2 separate regions of the Homo sapiens genome follow, and region 2 is linked to region 1. Evidence: fine-mapped expression QTL. Tissue or cell type: prefrontal cortex. Region 1 holds a variant in brackets; the other region holds the start of a gene. All regions are shown on one strand. Distances are from middle to middle.

Region 1 (8,112 bases):
AATAGCATAGTCAGACTTAATTTTGTTGTGTCTTTACAAAATTACACAGTGGTTATTCTTTTTGAGTCAGTACCTTACACAAATTACTGAGGATTGAGAAAAAGTGGTTGTTGTCAAGAAACAGAGTTTAAGATTCTTAACTTTTCCTAATCTTTTCCTACTTCTAATATTCTTAATATAGAATGGAATGAAGCTAGTATTTTAGCTCCTGAGACCCTTAGTACACATACCCATTTTTAAGCTTTGTTAATGCTTTTATATTTTATACTGGGAAAAAAATAGAAGATTTCAAATACAATTCACAAGTCCAGGAGATATTAAAATAATTGGTCATTGCTATGATATATTCACACAGACTCAGTAAACAGCAAAATAATGAAATTTTTCAATTTCATTATTGAAAAATCATAAAAAAAGAAAAAGTTTAAAGCTCAAGTTTTAGTTTGTAGTATAAGCAGGAATCTCTTCATCTATTCCCCAAATTTTACATTATTTTTACAAGAATACTAATAAACTTGTTATGAGAAAAGTAAAAAGTTTACTCAAGTGAAATGAATGTAATATTTCCATTTTATGAAGCCAAATTCAGCGACATTGGCACTGCTCAAAAGAGGAAACATTTTATCTAACATATATTAAGAAAAAACATTTTCATGAAAACTAAAAACACTCACATTACATAGTTGTCCAAATACGCAGGTTTTTAAATATACAATTAGTTATACTCTAAGGATATTATTCTAAGTTTTTCCTTTTCCTTATTTATTAGGATTTCCTCCTAGTTAACTGCACCATGAGTAAAAAGTAATTTTTCTCATACACTACCTTTGATAAATATGGAATTAACTTAAGAAGACAGTTCAAAAAGAGCTTAAATTTACAACCCTAATGTCAGACTATCTTGCATGTGTTTTAGAGCAGACTTATTTATATCTAAGGCATCACATTTTTAGTGTAAGACGATAAGAAATAGTTTCATGATTCGGTATACACTATATGCCTACTGGTTGTAGGTTATTGACCTACAAGAATAATTTTAATTAACCTCCTTTTCACTATAAAATATTCTTACCCACTACTTTTACTATTTATATCTTTACTATTTATTATATTTTTTTCAAGAAAGCAAGCCTAAGGCATTGCAAAGGTGACAAGATGAAGGCTACCACCAGGGGGCAGAAATGTGACAAATGCTAATCAGACCTTGCAAATGAGTTTAACGCATTGTTCTATTTGCAAACTGATTAATGCACAGTACAATTTTCACAAGATTACATATTTGATCTTAATTTGGTTCATGTGGCTTTATCCTGGAAAAAATATTTTTCAGTAAATACAGACTGTAATAAGTATGTGCCATGCATTATAGAAGGGAATCAAATGTGTGTAGCTCCCAAGAAATAACTAGAAAAATCATATATCAAATCATCTAGTAACCGAGATTTGTAAATATCAGAGTATAAAATGTACTATGTTTTTCACATACATAAAAACATAAATATTAAGTTTTAAATTATACTGTTTTAATGGAAGTAAGTAACAATTTGAACACACATGAACACAATTTAAAGCTGAACAGTCAGACTGTAAAAAATAGGCTAGGTGTGGTGGTTCATGCTTGTAATTTCAGGACTTTGGGAGGCCGAGATGGAAGGATCCCTTGAGGCTAGGAGTTTGAGACCAACCTAGCAATACATTGAGACCCATCTCTACACACACACACACACACACACAAATTAGATGGGCATGGTGGTGAACACCTGTAGTTCTAGGTACTGGGGATGAGGAGGTGGAAAGATTGCTGGAGCTCAAGAGTTCACAGCTGCAATGAGCTATGATTGTGCCACTGTACTACAGCCTGGGCAACAGAGTAGCACCCTGTCTCTAAATAAATAAATGAATAAATAAGGTTGTAAGAAATAAATTTAATTTGCAAAGAAAGTTTTAAAGATCTGCTTTAATTATCATAAAAACAAAAAAAAATTGCCCAGAAAACATTACAATGGAAAATACTTTACATAGTCTCATGATATTTTGGAGAAAAATTAAATTATGGCCAATATGTGATCCAGATACTGCCTGGAAAATCAAATGTGACAATAATTCTGAAACATTTAATTCAGAAAATATATAAGATAATGGTTTCACCCTTCACCTTCAATCAACATTTTCTATGTACTATTAATAAGAAATGTAACAGATAGGTCAAGTCATACCAAAAAAAGAAAGTGATTCAAGTAATGAAAATATTTGAAAGCAAGTTTCCTGGGAAAAATCACAAATATATACATTTTAGGTTATAGGGAAAAAACCATTTCATTAATGGGAGGATTATTCACATATCACACATCACAGTCAAATAGCACTGAATTTACTCTAAGAAATGCACCTAATACATTTTTAAGAATCAGATTTGCCTGGGGCAGGTGAATTCATTAATCAAGGATACATCTGGTCTAATACAGTATTTAATTTTTTTATATTTAGGAAATTTTTCCTTAACAATCATTTTGGACTAAGGGTATAGAGTAGACAAAACAGTAACAAAGAATTACTGTTACACCTTCTTTACAGACTCCATTATTATACTAAATAAAAGCGAAATCTAGAAACAAATACACAACTTACCATAATGAGAACTGTTGAAGACACCTGTTATTGTCTTGCATGAAGAGTTGTCCCCACCACACACTCCACATTTGTCTATCTTGGCACTGGAGTTTAACACGTGATCACAACCAGCTGCCTTCAAGACACAATTACAATCAATATTATAAGAATGACTAATTATGAAGAAAAGAGAGAAGATCCAAATACATACAATCAGATATGACAAAGGGGATTTACCACTGACCCCACAGAAATATAGATAACTCTCAGAGGCTACTATGAACACCTCTATGCACATGAACTAGAAAACCTAGAAGAAATGGATAAACTCCTGGACACAAACACCCTCCCAAGACTGAAGGTGGAAGAAAGAGAATCCCTGGACAGACCAATAATGAGCTCTGAAATGGAATCAGTAATAAGTAGGCTACCATCCAAAAAAAGCCCAGGATCACACGATTCCCAGCTGAATTCTACTAGATGTACAAATAAGAGCTGGTACCATTCCTACTGAAACTATTTAAAAAATTGAGGAGGAGGGACTCCTCCCTAACTCCTTCTATGAGGTCAGCATCATCCTGATACCAAAACCTGGCAGAGACACGACAAAAAAAAAAGAAAATTTTAGGCCAATATCCTTGATGAATACTGATACAAAAATCCTCAACAAAATACTTGCAAACCAAATCCAGCAGCAAATCAAAAAGCTTATCCACCGCAATCAAGTAGACTTCATCCCCGGGGTGCAAATTTGGTTCAACATATGCAAATCAACAAATGCAATTCATCACATAAACAGAACAAAATACAAAAATCACATGATTATCTCAA[T/C]AGATGCAGAAAATGCTTTCAATAAAATTCAACACTCCTTCATGTTAAGAGCTCTTCATAAACTAGGCATTGAAGGAACATACCTCAAAATAATCAGAGCGATCTATGACAAACCCACAACAGCTATTATACTGAATGGGGAAAAGCAGGAAGAATTTCCCTTGAAAACTGGCAGAAGACAAGGATGCCCTCTCACCACTCCTATTTAACATAGTACTGAAAGTCCTGGCCAGAACAATCAGGAAAAAGAAAAAAAGAAAGGGCATCCAAATAGAAAAAGAGGAAGTCAAACAATCCCTGCTGGCTGATGACATGATTATATATCTAGAAAACTCCATAGTCTCGGCCCAAAAGCTCCTTAACCTGACAAACAACTTCAGCAAATTTGCAAGATACAAAATCAATGTACAAAACTTACTACCATTCCTACACACCAATATTAACAAACTTGAGACCCAAATAAGGAACACAATCCCCTTCACAATGGCCACCAAACGAATAAGATACCTAGGAATACAGCCAACCAGGGAGGTGAAAGATCTCTACAATGAGAATTATAAAACACTGCTCAAAGCAATAGAGATGACACAAACAAATGAAAAATACTCTATGCTTATGGATAGGAAGAATCAATATCATTAAAATGGCCATATTTCCCAAAGCAATGTACACATCCAATGCCATTTCTATAAAACTACCATTAATATTCTTTATAGAACTAGAGAAAACTATTTTAAAATTCACATGGAACCAAAAAAAGAGCCTGAATAGCCAAAGAAATCCTAACCAAAAAGAACAAAGCTGAAGGTGTCATGCTACCCAACTTCAAACTATACTACAGGGCTACAGTAACCAAAACAGCATGGAACTGGTACAAAAACAGACACACAGACCAATGGAACAGAATAGAAAGACCAGAAATAAGTCCATACAGCTACAACCATCTGATCTTAAACAAAGCTGATCAAAACAAGCAATGGAAAAAGGACTCCCTATTCAATAAATGGTGCTGGGATAAATGGCTAACCATATGCAGAAGACTGAAACCGGAACCCTTCCTTACATCTTATAAAAAAATCAACTCATGATGGATTAAAGACTTCAATGTAAAACCCCAAACTATAAAAACCCTGGAAGACAACCTAGGCCATACCATTCTGGACACAAGAACTGGCAAAGATTTCATGATGAAGACACCGAAAGCAATTGCAACAGCAAAAACTGGAAAATGAGATCTAGCTAAATTTAAGAGCTTCTGAACAGCAAAAGAAATTATCAACAGAGTAAATAGACAATCTACAGAATGGGGGAAAATATCTGCAAACTATACATCTGACAAAGGTCTATTATCCAGCATCTATAAGGAACTTAAATAAATTTACAAGAAAAAAAAACAATCCCATTAAAAAGTGAGCAAAGAACATGAACAAACACCTTTTAAGAGAAGACATACATGCAGCCAACAAGCCTACAAAAAAAGCGCAATATCACTGATCATTAGAGAAATGCAAATCAAAACCAAAATAAGATAGCATCTCACACCAGTCAGAATGACTATTATTAAAAAGTCAAAAAATAAAAGATGCTGGAAAGATTGCAGAAAAGAGAACGGTTATACACCGTTGGTGGGAGTGTAAATTGGTTCAACCACTGTGGAAAGCAGTGTGGCGATTCCCTAAAGAGCTAAAAACTGAACTACCATTCAACTCAGCAATCCCATTACTGGATATATACCCAAAGGAATATAAGTTGTTCTACCATAAAGACACATGCAGGTGTATGTTCATTGCAGCACTATTTACAATAGCAAAGACATGAAATGAACCTAAGTGTCCATTAATGGTAGACTGGATAAAGAAAATGTGATACATATACACAAAGGAATACTATGCAGCCATAGAAAAGAATAAAATGACGTCTTTTACAGGAACATGGATGGAGCTGGAGGTCATCATCCTTAGCAAACCAACACAGGAACAGAAAGCCAAATATTACACGTTCTCACTTGTAAGTGTGAGCTAAATGATGAGAACATATGGGCACAAAGAGGGGAACAACACACACTGGGGCCTGCTGAGGGTGGAGGGTAGGAGGCGCGAGAGGATCAGAAAAAGTAACTATTGGATACTAGGCTTAGTATCTGGATGATGAAATAATCTGTACAACAAAACCCTGTTACACGAGTTTACCTGTATAAAAAACTTGCATATATACCCCTGAACCTAAAATAAAAGTTAAAAAAAAAGAATGACCAACTATAAGCATGGTGCTTTAAAGTTTACAAAGTTCTTTTCACAAATATCCTTTCAATTAACAGGAGATTCAGTACAACAGAATTGTTTCAAAATATATACTCATCTAGTTGTATGTAACATTTTCACATATTCATTTAAAAAGCCAAGTTTATTAAAGGGTCATCCACAGACCTCCTGCATCAACATCACATGGGGTGGTATTTAAAAAGACAGTATCCCAGATCTTCTGAATTATAATACTTGGAAATAAAACCTAGGAATCTGCATTGTAACACTGACATTGATTCCAATACCCACTGTCATTTGAAAACCACTCTTAAAAGAAATGTAATTCAAAGAGACTAAAGTATGAGTATGTAAGTAACACATTAGAATACTCCAAAAAGATGACTTCCATGGTTATTATTTTAACTCATGACCTTAGAACTCTGCAAATAGTCTTAGCTTCAAATAAGTATTTAAAAGTAAAGTTTTCTCTAAAACTAATACCCAGCATAACAGTGCTTATTTTTAAAAATGAATGAATAAATGAATGAATATACAAGTAGATGGCTTGTTCCAGAAATTTCAAAAAAACAAATGCAGCTCCTCTCCATGAAGAAGCTGTCCTCTGCATACATTGCAATAACTCTTTCCATTGTTTGGAATGGCCTTCTAAATTTAGTGATCAGCAAAGAAAATTTCTTAAGCCTAGTGAATTTTTTTATACACAAGGCAGATATTTTCAAAATCAAAATGTTAAGCATATATTTTCTGAAAGTAGCATGCCTCTATATGTTCAGATAATCTTCATCATAACTTTTGCATTGTCATATGACTTTATGCTGCTAATTTAAAGCACAACTTTTTTCAGGCCACTGAATAACCTTTTCAGTATTTAAACTGTTTCCGACTTAAATTATTTTAATTCTCTTTGAACATCTCATTAGCTCTTTGGGTGAACAGCCTTTATCACTGAGATAAGGTAAAAGGTATTTGTTCATGGGGAGATGAAGTTGGCCCTATAGAGCTCCACTTTAACTGAAGGAATAAGTTCATAACTTATACTTATATTTTTAATTATTTTTTATCTTTTATTTTCAAACTGACAGATAACATTGTATGTTTTTATCATGTACAACATAATGTTTTGAAGAATATCAATACATTAAGGAATGGTTAAATCTAGCTAATTAACAAATGCATAACCTCACATAGTTATCATTTTTGTGGTGACAGCACATAACATCCACTAAAAATAGAACTACCATATGATCCAGCAACCTCACTACTTCCAAAGGAAATGAATTTAGTATATCAAAGAGATATCTACACTCCCATGTTTATCACAGCTCTATTCACAATAGCCAAAATATGAAATCAAACTAAGTGTCCATCAGTGGATGCATGGATTTAAACAATCTGGTTTATATACAAAATGGTATATTATTCAGCCATAAAGAAGAGGAAACCTTGCCATTTGTGACAACATGGATGAACCTGGAGGACACTGGGTTAAATGAAATAAGCCAGACACCAAAAATCAAATACTATATGATCCCATTCATATGTGGAATCTAAAAAAGTTGATCTCATAGAAGTACACTTACTATATTCTTTAGACCACATTCACTATCTTAGTTCTCAAACTCGCCATCCATTCTCAAGACTGCCATTGCAATGTTTGTGCTTTAACTCAGCATCTCATCTGCTCTGACCTACAACCCTGTTAAATGGACCACCTGCCTCCAATCTTCTAAACCCAGTATTTTGAAGATTCCAATATGCAAATCGAATCACATCTCTCCCTTGACTTCAAATGCTTCTATGTGTTTCCAAGGAGTTAAGAAAAAAAAAAAGTGCATTTGACAACCATCTGCTAGTCCCTAACTCCAACTCTGCTCCCATACTTCCTCATCTTCCTAAAACCTACTCATTTCAATACTTAGCACAAGTCTTATGCGCTCCATAAAAGGTTCTCTGAATCCTTTACCCACCTCCCCATAAAATAAGAAACTCCTTTCAATATCTCCATGCTACCTTGCAGATGACCCATAGCAGTGCATTCTAATTGTTTACATGCCTATTTCCCCCACAAATCTGTGACCATCTTGGAAGTGGGGTTCTCTGCTCCAGTCTTTTATCCTGGTGACTTGAACAGTATCTGACATCTAGTAGCTACTCAATCAATGTTTGTTGAATGTACATAAAAAATAAGTGACAGAGAGCTGGAAAGAGGAAGGGAGAATATCAATGGTTTCAACGGACAAGGAAAACATTACTGTAGAAGCTTACACTTAAAGTAGCAAAATCTCCTTACAATCCTTTTATCTTATTATTTTCTATCTTTTTAGGAAGCTGACCTCATTCCTATTTTGATTATGAGTACAATAGACCACAGAAAGTCATCAAATTTATCTTAATGCTTTGTTGAGGC
Region 2 (8,112 bases), 100 kb after region 1:
TATTGCATTGTTCAAAGGGACTGCCCAAAGAGGTGTTCCAGGGTGCTGACTATGTGGGACTCAAGGAAGGAACCCTCTGAAAGGGTTCCCTACACACATCAAATTTAGAGGTGTAGAAGAGTTCGACAAAGAGAGGAACTGAATCCCTCTTGACTCTCAAATGCCATAGAGGGCTTGAGGCCTTTAGAGGGGTCTGCAAGAAGAGCAATAGCATCACCAAACCAGTTTACCTGGAGAAGGTGATGCAGCAGGACTTTGTATTTGAAGGCTGCACAATGAATCACTGAGACAAGAAATCAAATGGATATTATAGCCAGAATTCAGAGGGATATACAGCACTAGTGAGAGCCCAGAGGAGGATGAGTCAAGACCAGTGAGCTCTCATTGAACTAGGAGAAAAAAGGCCATAAGTTCTCAGGCCCAGAAATCAGCTGCTGTTAACAGAAAAGTACAATGAAACTATGGCACAAAGAACATCACCAGAAACTTGAGGAACTGAAGGACGGTACAATTTCCTCACCCCTCTCCCAAACAATACAAAGACCTCATAACACGTTATAACCCTGTATATAGTCAGTTTCTATCAATGGTCAATGAATTCTTGAATCCACCAATATATGAAACAACACTCATTAGCAGAAAAAGAAATGAAATTGGATGCTCATTTCAATATACTCAGGAAAAACATTTAATAAACTACAACATCCATTCATGATTAAAAGCAAAACTAAAGTAAAGCAAAAAGCGACTAGAAAAAGAAGAGAACATCTCTAAATTAATAAGACTAGCTCTGAGAATCCTTCAGCAAACTGCAACCTTAATGTTTAATGGACTGAGAGGCCAAAGTCAGATATCAAGTACACAAGGTGACAAAGATAAACTAGGAAGCAAGTAGGAGCAGGGCCATCAGGTTAGCATTATTGAATTCCCAAGCTTTGTATCAACATTGATCTGCAAACAATTCATCTGGTCCAGGTTTCGGATACTACAGTTTACCTAGATACAAAGACTAAAGGCTGATCTGAGACTAAAAAGGGGAATCTGGTATAATTACAAATGGATTCTAAAATCTACCAGGTTCTATTATTTGATGAAACTATTAATCCAAAGAAATTTAATCGTAGAGTCAGTGTAGAAATAAATATATATAATCATAAATAGGTAGCTAATATCCGTTTTAGTGCTAATATAAAAAAAGCAAAATTTTTAAAAAGTCACTAATCTCATCAGTAATTTAGACTTACAATTGATTATGATCACACTACTGAAAAAAATGTAGATCTTGATACCTCTAGTTATTTCCAATGTTACTGGAAAATTTCTGTCTCTACAATGATTGAAGTATGCAACTAAGCCTTATGCAAATACAGAGAAATTATGTAAAATAAAGCTAAGTTATGGAGGTATGAAAAGAAACGTTTAAATGTTTTATCAACTACTTCTGATAATATCAATAAATTATCAAAAGCAAAGTACATAAATGGGATTATTTACTTGCCATTCAAAGTATGACTCCTATAGGTGATTTTTCCTCTTCAAAAATTTAGTAAAAGAACATTCAGAACAAATCATTTTATTTGTTTGTAATTTCTAGTAATCCCTCAATTAAATTAAATAATTTTGTTCTGAATGTTTTATTATAAAATTTATATAACATAAATGATTGATTTCATTTTTTATTAATGAGTACATTGCTAAAGAAGATAAACATTGCTGATTAACTTACACATAATATATTGTATAATACATTATCCACATAAATGAGGAAATAATAAATCTTCACACGTAACATTATAAAAATATTAATATTAATTTTTAGATATGTTAATAAAATGAACTAGGTTATAAAACAAAAAAAGTATGATGATGACTTGGGCAACTGTATCCAAAATGACACAGTGACTAGAGAGTTATGACTCAAAAATCTTTAACTGCTTTCTGAATTCAAAAAGAGGATATTGATCATAAATATATATACCTACTATGTACCCACAAAAATTAAAAATTTTAAAAAAGGATACTGAATAATAATTTAACTACATCAACATTATGAATCAAAATGAGCAGAAACAGCATTCCCTATAATGCCTTCCCATCTGGAATGCTTTTCCATGAGAAAACATAATGACCATGACAAATTTGTGGTAGCAAGTCTAGGATTTTCCAGACAAACTAAACATTATTTTAGAAAGGTTTTAGAAGGAGAATTTTTTATCCTTTGAAGTATAGGTGGCTATGTAAATATTAGAGTGTGATTCTGCCATTGTGATGTTGCAAATATTTTACATGGAAGAAAGAAAGGAAATGGTTCTAGCCATTTCATGTAAAAAACAACTCAAGATAATCACTTGAAAAAGAGCTCACATCCAGGAAGACATCTTAAATCAGTTAAGCTAAAGGAGTATTACATTTGAACTGCAGAGAAATGTTATCAATTTTTTATTTAATCAAAGAATAAACAGTGTTGATGTTCTAAAAATATCTTTGAACACCTTCCAGAAGTATCTTTTGTAAAAGTATGTATCTGCTAAACAAAAGCTAGATACTTAGGAACTGTAGAATCCTGTAACCAAATTCCTAGTTCTTGTTTTTTCTTGAATATGTATTTGTCAGAGGAGTTACTGATGGAGTGAGCCTATATATGTTTTAAAACAACTGTCCTTACCCTGGGGTTCCATGAACTTGGATGGAAAAAAGGTACATCTTTATTTTCACTAACCTCTGATACTGAGCATTTCCTTCAAGTATGAAGGTAGGTGAAACCACAGACACTGTGGCTTTATCACCAATAAAATGATACTTTTATATCACATTATGGTTGGTGTAGCTATGTGTCAACTGATTACCACCACAAAAATATAACAGACATAACCAATAGATCTCTGTAGGTAGACTGTTTTCAAGTATGATGCATTTTAAACAGATTCAACCTCTTCCCTACTCTACTTCACAGGCCATCCCCATACCATCAACAAAATGAACTTTTCCTATTCTGACCTTGCCAGTGGGAGCCATTTCATTTTATGTATATTCATTCTCCTTTCCTTCTATCAAATTCCAGAAACAAACTTATCTAAGTAAATCCGGGGGATTCTGCCTCAATAGGACCACGAAAGGGTACATCTGAGTCAAACAGCCTGCCCTCCATTCGGAAAACACACTCCATTGTAACAGTGGTCCCACAGGCCACTCCCTGATCACCACTCCAGGGATGATGAAAGAGCATCTTTCATCAGCGTTGCACAGAGGGTCGGTTTTGCCCAGCAGGCAGAGACCTGCTCATCCTGCCACCAGAGCCTTCCGAAGGAGTTGCCTCTGGCTTGGTGTTAATCCTTCTTGTAGCCCAACCTGAACTCCAGGGTCATCAGCCACCAACTCGAAAACCCAAGGCCCCGTTCGCTGAATGTAGCCCTTGCCTGGATCCCAAGAAAATGCCAAGGGACCCGAGGACACTCACCAGGCCTCCGCATAAGCTGACGACGGCCTTGTAATCCTCCTGTGAGTTGACCTGGCCGCGGTAGAAGCAGTGGCGCAGGTCCGAGGGCCCTGCGTCGCTCTCCCAGGCCCCGCGCTCCGGGGTTCCCAAGTGCACCTCGGTGTAGCCGGCGGCCAGAAAGGATGCATCGGCGGTCAGGTTCAGCTGGAAGAGCTGCCCGTAGGCAGTGAAGCGATAGTGGGTTCGGAACGGCATGGGTTCCAGCGCCTCGGAGCTGCGTTTCTGCCGGCTGAAGTGGTGGCTCTGAGGGAACACTTCTCCAAACTCATTGACCCGCTCGGGGATCACTACTTCGTAGGAGGTCAGTGTCCTCACCAGGGCTTCTGCAACAACAGCGACAGGACCAGTGAGCTCCCACGCGTTCCTCATTGTCCAACTCTAAACTTCTTCCACCAAACGTCCCCGCTAAAGGTCCCAGGTCCCAGTACAGCCAGGGGCAAGACAAATGCACACATGCTGATGCGCACGCACACACACACACGTGCACTGGGACGGTTAGTGCTCTGCTTTCCCACACCCCCAACTTGCCCTACCCTCCCCAAGCAAAGACCCTACCACTAATGGCCCTAAGCAACCCACTTCCTTCCCCAGTACCTCCTAACCTCCCCGCAGCCCCCAACTCGTTCCCTCCGGGTGCAAGCGACCCCCTGCCCCTTGCGCCCCCGCCGTGTGGTCCTGGGAGTGCGATGCGTCTTAGGCGCGCGCGATTCCTCGAAACCCGGCGCAGTCGCGACCTCTCCGGCTGACTGGTCCGGGAGTCCCGGGAGCTCCAGCAGGGCCAGCGTTCCCCAACGGGCTGAGCCGCTCGTCCCCGCGACCTGCATGTCCCACTCGGGCCCCGCGCCCCCACTTAGCCGCTGAAGGCGTCTCGCGGTGACTTTACCTTGCCTGGGGTGGAAGTCAACTTCCCAAGACCTGGTGATGAAGAGCGAGAGATGGTAGAGCAGCCCAGTCAGCCACTTGGCCACCCACATGGTTCCACCCTGGGGACCCCGATCGGGGAGGCCCACCAGAGCCGCCGGCAGCCAAGCCGGCTTCCCTCGCGCTCCGATCCCTCTCCTCCCTCTCGCCCGCCGCTCTCCGCGCCTCAGCAGCCTAGGGAACAGCAGCGCGGGCCCTGGGCCGGCTGGTCCAGCCACACCGCCTGTCTCCGCTCGCTGAGCCGCTGCTTCATCGCACTGCAGCCTCACCCCCCTTCCTGCGCCCGCGCTGCCCTCAGAAACTCTCTGCTCAGGTTCAGCTCGGCGCGGGGAAGCAACTCGACCTAGCAGGAATGGTGCCAATATAGCCACCCCGGACCGGCGAGCGCCGCGGAGAGCCCGCCCCTATGGGCTGTTCCCGGCCAATCAGCGGGAGGCGCGGCCCCTGCTCGCTTTTCCCCGCGCAGCCCCCTCCCTTCTCCACTCAGCCGCAAGGGGACTGCGGTACCCTTCTGCTGCCCCAGTGGGCGCGCGACTTGCTGAGTAGCCCCAAGGCCCGGCTGGGCACCAATTCCGGACCTATGAAACCGAGCGAGATGCAAGCACCCGCGTACGTGAAAGGTGCCTAGGGTTTTGAGCTCTTAGATGAAATGACAAGCATCAGATAGAACGTTTCTGTTTTTTATGTTTTACGGTACTTTTAGGCTTCTCAAACAAAATAAAATAAGCTACAACGGAAGTTCTTGTAGGCAGAGGATGCTACCAATGAAGCTCAGTGACCGGGCCTCACTTGCATGGGCCCCTGTGTGTGCTGGGAGTTGCCGGGAGTTGAGTGCCATAGGTGGGGCGAGGAAGCCGAGTTTGCACACGAGCACTTCTGACAATTGCCGAAATAAATTCAGAAAAGGATCTGAGTCTCCAAAGTTTTAGTAACTTACTGTGGTTTATTTTTCTTCTTTTAATATTCATATTTGTACTTAATTTTGTATCAAGAGCCCTCCAAAATTATATAAACGTCAAGAGCCACAAAACTTGGATCTGCCCTGCCTGCGAGAGTTTTTGCCGTTAGTTCCACAGTATTCATATACACTTTGTTTATAATATACAAATAATCCCGTATATTCACAATTATCCTCCTCTACAATTACTGTGGCTCTGAATCCAGTTGTCTCCAGGTGTCTGTTAAATTGAATACACCACAGTGGTAGCCGAAAGCAATTATTTTAGTACGATTTCTCATTTCTCAAATCCACCTGTTTGATTTGCAGGTTACATAATTACTTTTCTCTATATCCAGTATGAAAGCAAAGGGGGTGGGAGTAGTCAGATTGTCTTGAAATCCAACCAGGGGAGAGAAAGAATATAAGAAAAAAAGGAAAGGAGTATATGAGTAAATCTTCACACACACAATGGAAAACACTTTTAATTTAGTTCCTGACTGCTCTACCTCCTCTGAGCTCTCAACAATGGAAATGCTGCACTCTTTGAATTGACCTCTGATGGCATGCCTCTTCACTTTTATATCATACACTTGGTCATCTGTTGTTCACCACAAATGTGGAACAATCTTGTTCAATGAAAGAGGGTTTAATCTTACATCTCCCAGGAAATCACCCAGCTTGGTGATAGTAATTCTTCCATAATCATTCCCATTCTTTTGTACTCTTTTCTCACAATGAATGAAATGGTGACATTTCATTCACCAAAGAATTATAGACTTCTGGTGGGATTTTTTTCCTAAGCTAAACATAGTATTAGGATTTTTTTCCTAAGCTAAACATAGTATTATTCTCAACAAAACAAAAATGGACTTTACTCACACCTGTCTATTTAGTGGTTACCTTCAGTACATTATAATTGAGTCATTTTAATTACATTGCAGCTCTGAATGTGTCTTCACATTAGGAGCCATACCTTCTCTCCTACAAATACCGGAAAATAGAACTGCACCTGTTTAATTGGCGATCTCATTGCTGACTACAGGGAAAATTTGATATTTCATTTCCATCACTGAATGTTTGTAACTCAGGGCAGTATTTACAATCAAGCATTTGATTTTCAGCTTGCTCTAAGAATGGGGCGAGGGATTTTTTTTTCTTTTTCCTTTTACCTTTTCTTTTTTTTTTTTTTTTTTTTTTGAGATGGAGTCTCGCTCTGTCACCCAGGGTGGAGGGCAGTGGCACGATTTCGGCTCACTGCAACCTCCACCTCCTGGGTTTAAGCAATTTTCCTGTCTCAGCCTCCCGAGTAGCTGGGACTACAGGCACTCACCACCACGCCTGGCTAATTTTTGTATTTTTAGTAGAGACAAGGTTTCACCATGTTGGTCAGGGTGGTCTCGAACTCCTGACCGCAGATGATCCACCCTCCTAAGCCTCCCAAAAGTGCTGGGATTACAGACTAGAGCCACAGTGCCCGGCATCATTTTTCAAATAAATGACAAGGTATGTGGGGTGTGTATACTATATCATTATTATCTTTACAATGTTCAGTAAAATGTATTGTTTTCCTCATTTCATAGAAGATAGATGCTACATTGTCATACAGTATCTAAGCTGGATTTCTACTAATCCTTTCTGACTCCAAATGCTTTTTCATTATACTGAGCTATAAATGTTATTGATATTCACATTATCTCTCTTCTTTCTTCCTACTCTGCTAATGAAAATGTCATGAATAAGCTAATCTATGCCATTTAATTCAAACTATTTCCTCACATGGATAATTAGAGCTATCACTTATGGAATTCTTTGAAATGTATGAAATTTGAAACCAAAGAGATTTGGGTCTAACTTGATGCTAATCCAGAATGAATTATATAATCTCTCTGAGCTTCATGGAGGTAATAGGTAAGTTAAATGGTATGTCAGAGGAATTTCATAAGTGGTACCTGATCCTAGTGCTCTGAGAGGCAGAGGTAGGAAAATCATGTAGGCCAGGAGTTTGAGACCAGCTTGGGCAACACAGTGAGACCTCCGTTTCTAAAAAAAAAAAAAAAAAAAAAAAAATTAGGCATAGCGGCACTTGCCTGTTGAACTAGCTACTGGGGAGACTGAGGCAGAAGGATCATTCCTGAGCCCAGGAGCTCAAGGTTACAGTGAGCTATGATCACACTACCACTCCAGTCTGGGCAACAGAGTGAGATCCCGTCTCTAAAAAAAATAATAATAATATAACATAATAATTAATAAAATATTGTTTGATTTGTAATTGAGACATTAATCATTATAAACACAAGCCATGTGATCAGTTTTTGGCACAGTGTGGAGAAAATATATTCAATCCTGCAAAGGAGAAATATTCTCACTATACTTAGGGGTTAATAGACCTTGTTTTATAATCCTAGTTCTACTGTAAGCAGCTGTATAACGTTGAACAATTTGCCTAATGTAAGCCTACTTTTTCTCAGTTGTAAAATAAAGTTAATAATAGTAATCTCGTGCAATTGTTAAGATGATTAAAAGAGACAATACAGGTAACATTCTTGACATAATACTGAACAAACTATGTTCTCAATGCATATTTATGCTGATTATGGAATACTGAATGTTCATACTAAAAGGAACAACTCTTTGAATATATACTGCTTTTCTAATATTAATAGGTAGGAATTAGGAAGGTCAACTTCATGATTTACCTGAGACTGGGGAATTTCCTAAGGTGCAAGATTTTCATTGCTGAAACCTGGGAAGTCTT

Alleles and levels. Positions count from the first base shown, and alleles are read on the strand shown. Sizes are in standard deviations (SD) of each study's normalised expression.
As copies of C replace T in region 1, the expression in prefrontal cortex of the gene that starts at base 4,752 in region 2 goes up (large effect, 0.90 SD a copy in CommonMind).

Evidence for each region. PIP is the estimated chance that this variant, and not a neighbour inherited with it, causes the effect.
Region 2: it holds the start of ADAMTS20, and the variant in region 1 is fine-mapped to the expression of ADAMTS20 in prefrontal cortex (CommonMind, PIP 0.95).

The regions. Positions count from the first base shown.
Region 1 is chr12:43,443,967-43,452,078 of GRCh38, forward strand. ADAMTS20 (ADAM metallopeptidase with thrombospondin type 1 motif 20) reads right to left here. Exons shown (of 39, transcript NM_025003.5): 15 at 2,629-2,746. Among named protein-coding and RNA genes, the nearest start is that of ADAMTS20, 100 kb to the right of the region's middle. The variant T/C (reference allele first, on the strand shown) is at 3,442.
Region 2 is chr12:43,547,452-43,555,563 of GRCh38, forward strand. ADAMTS20 (ADAM metallopeptidase with thrombospondin type 1 motif 20) reads right to left here and starts at 4,752. Exons shown (of 39, transcript NM_025003.5): 1 at 4,380-4,752; 2 at 3,458-3,819. The coding sequence starts at 4,470.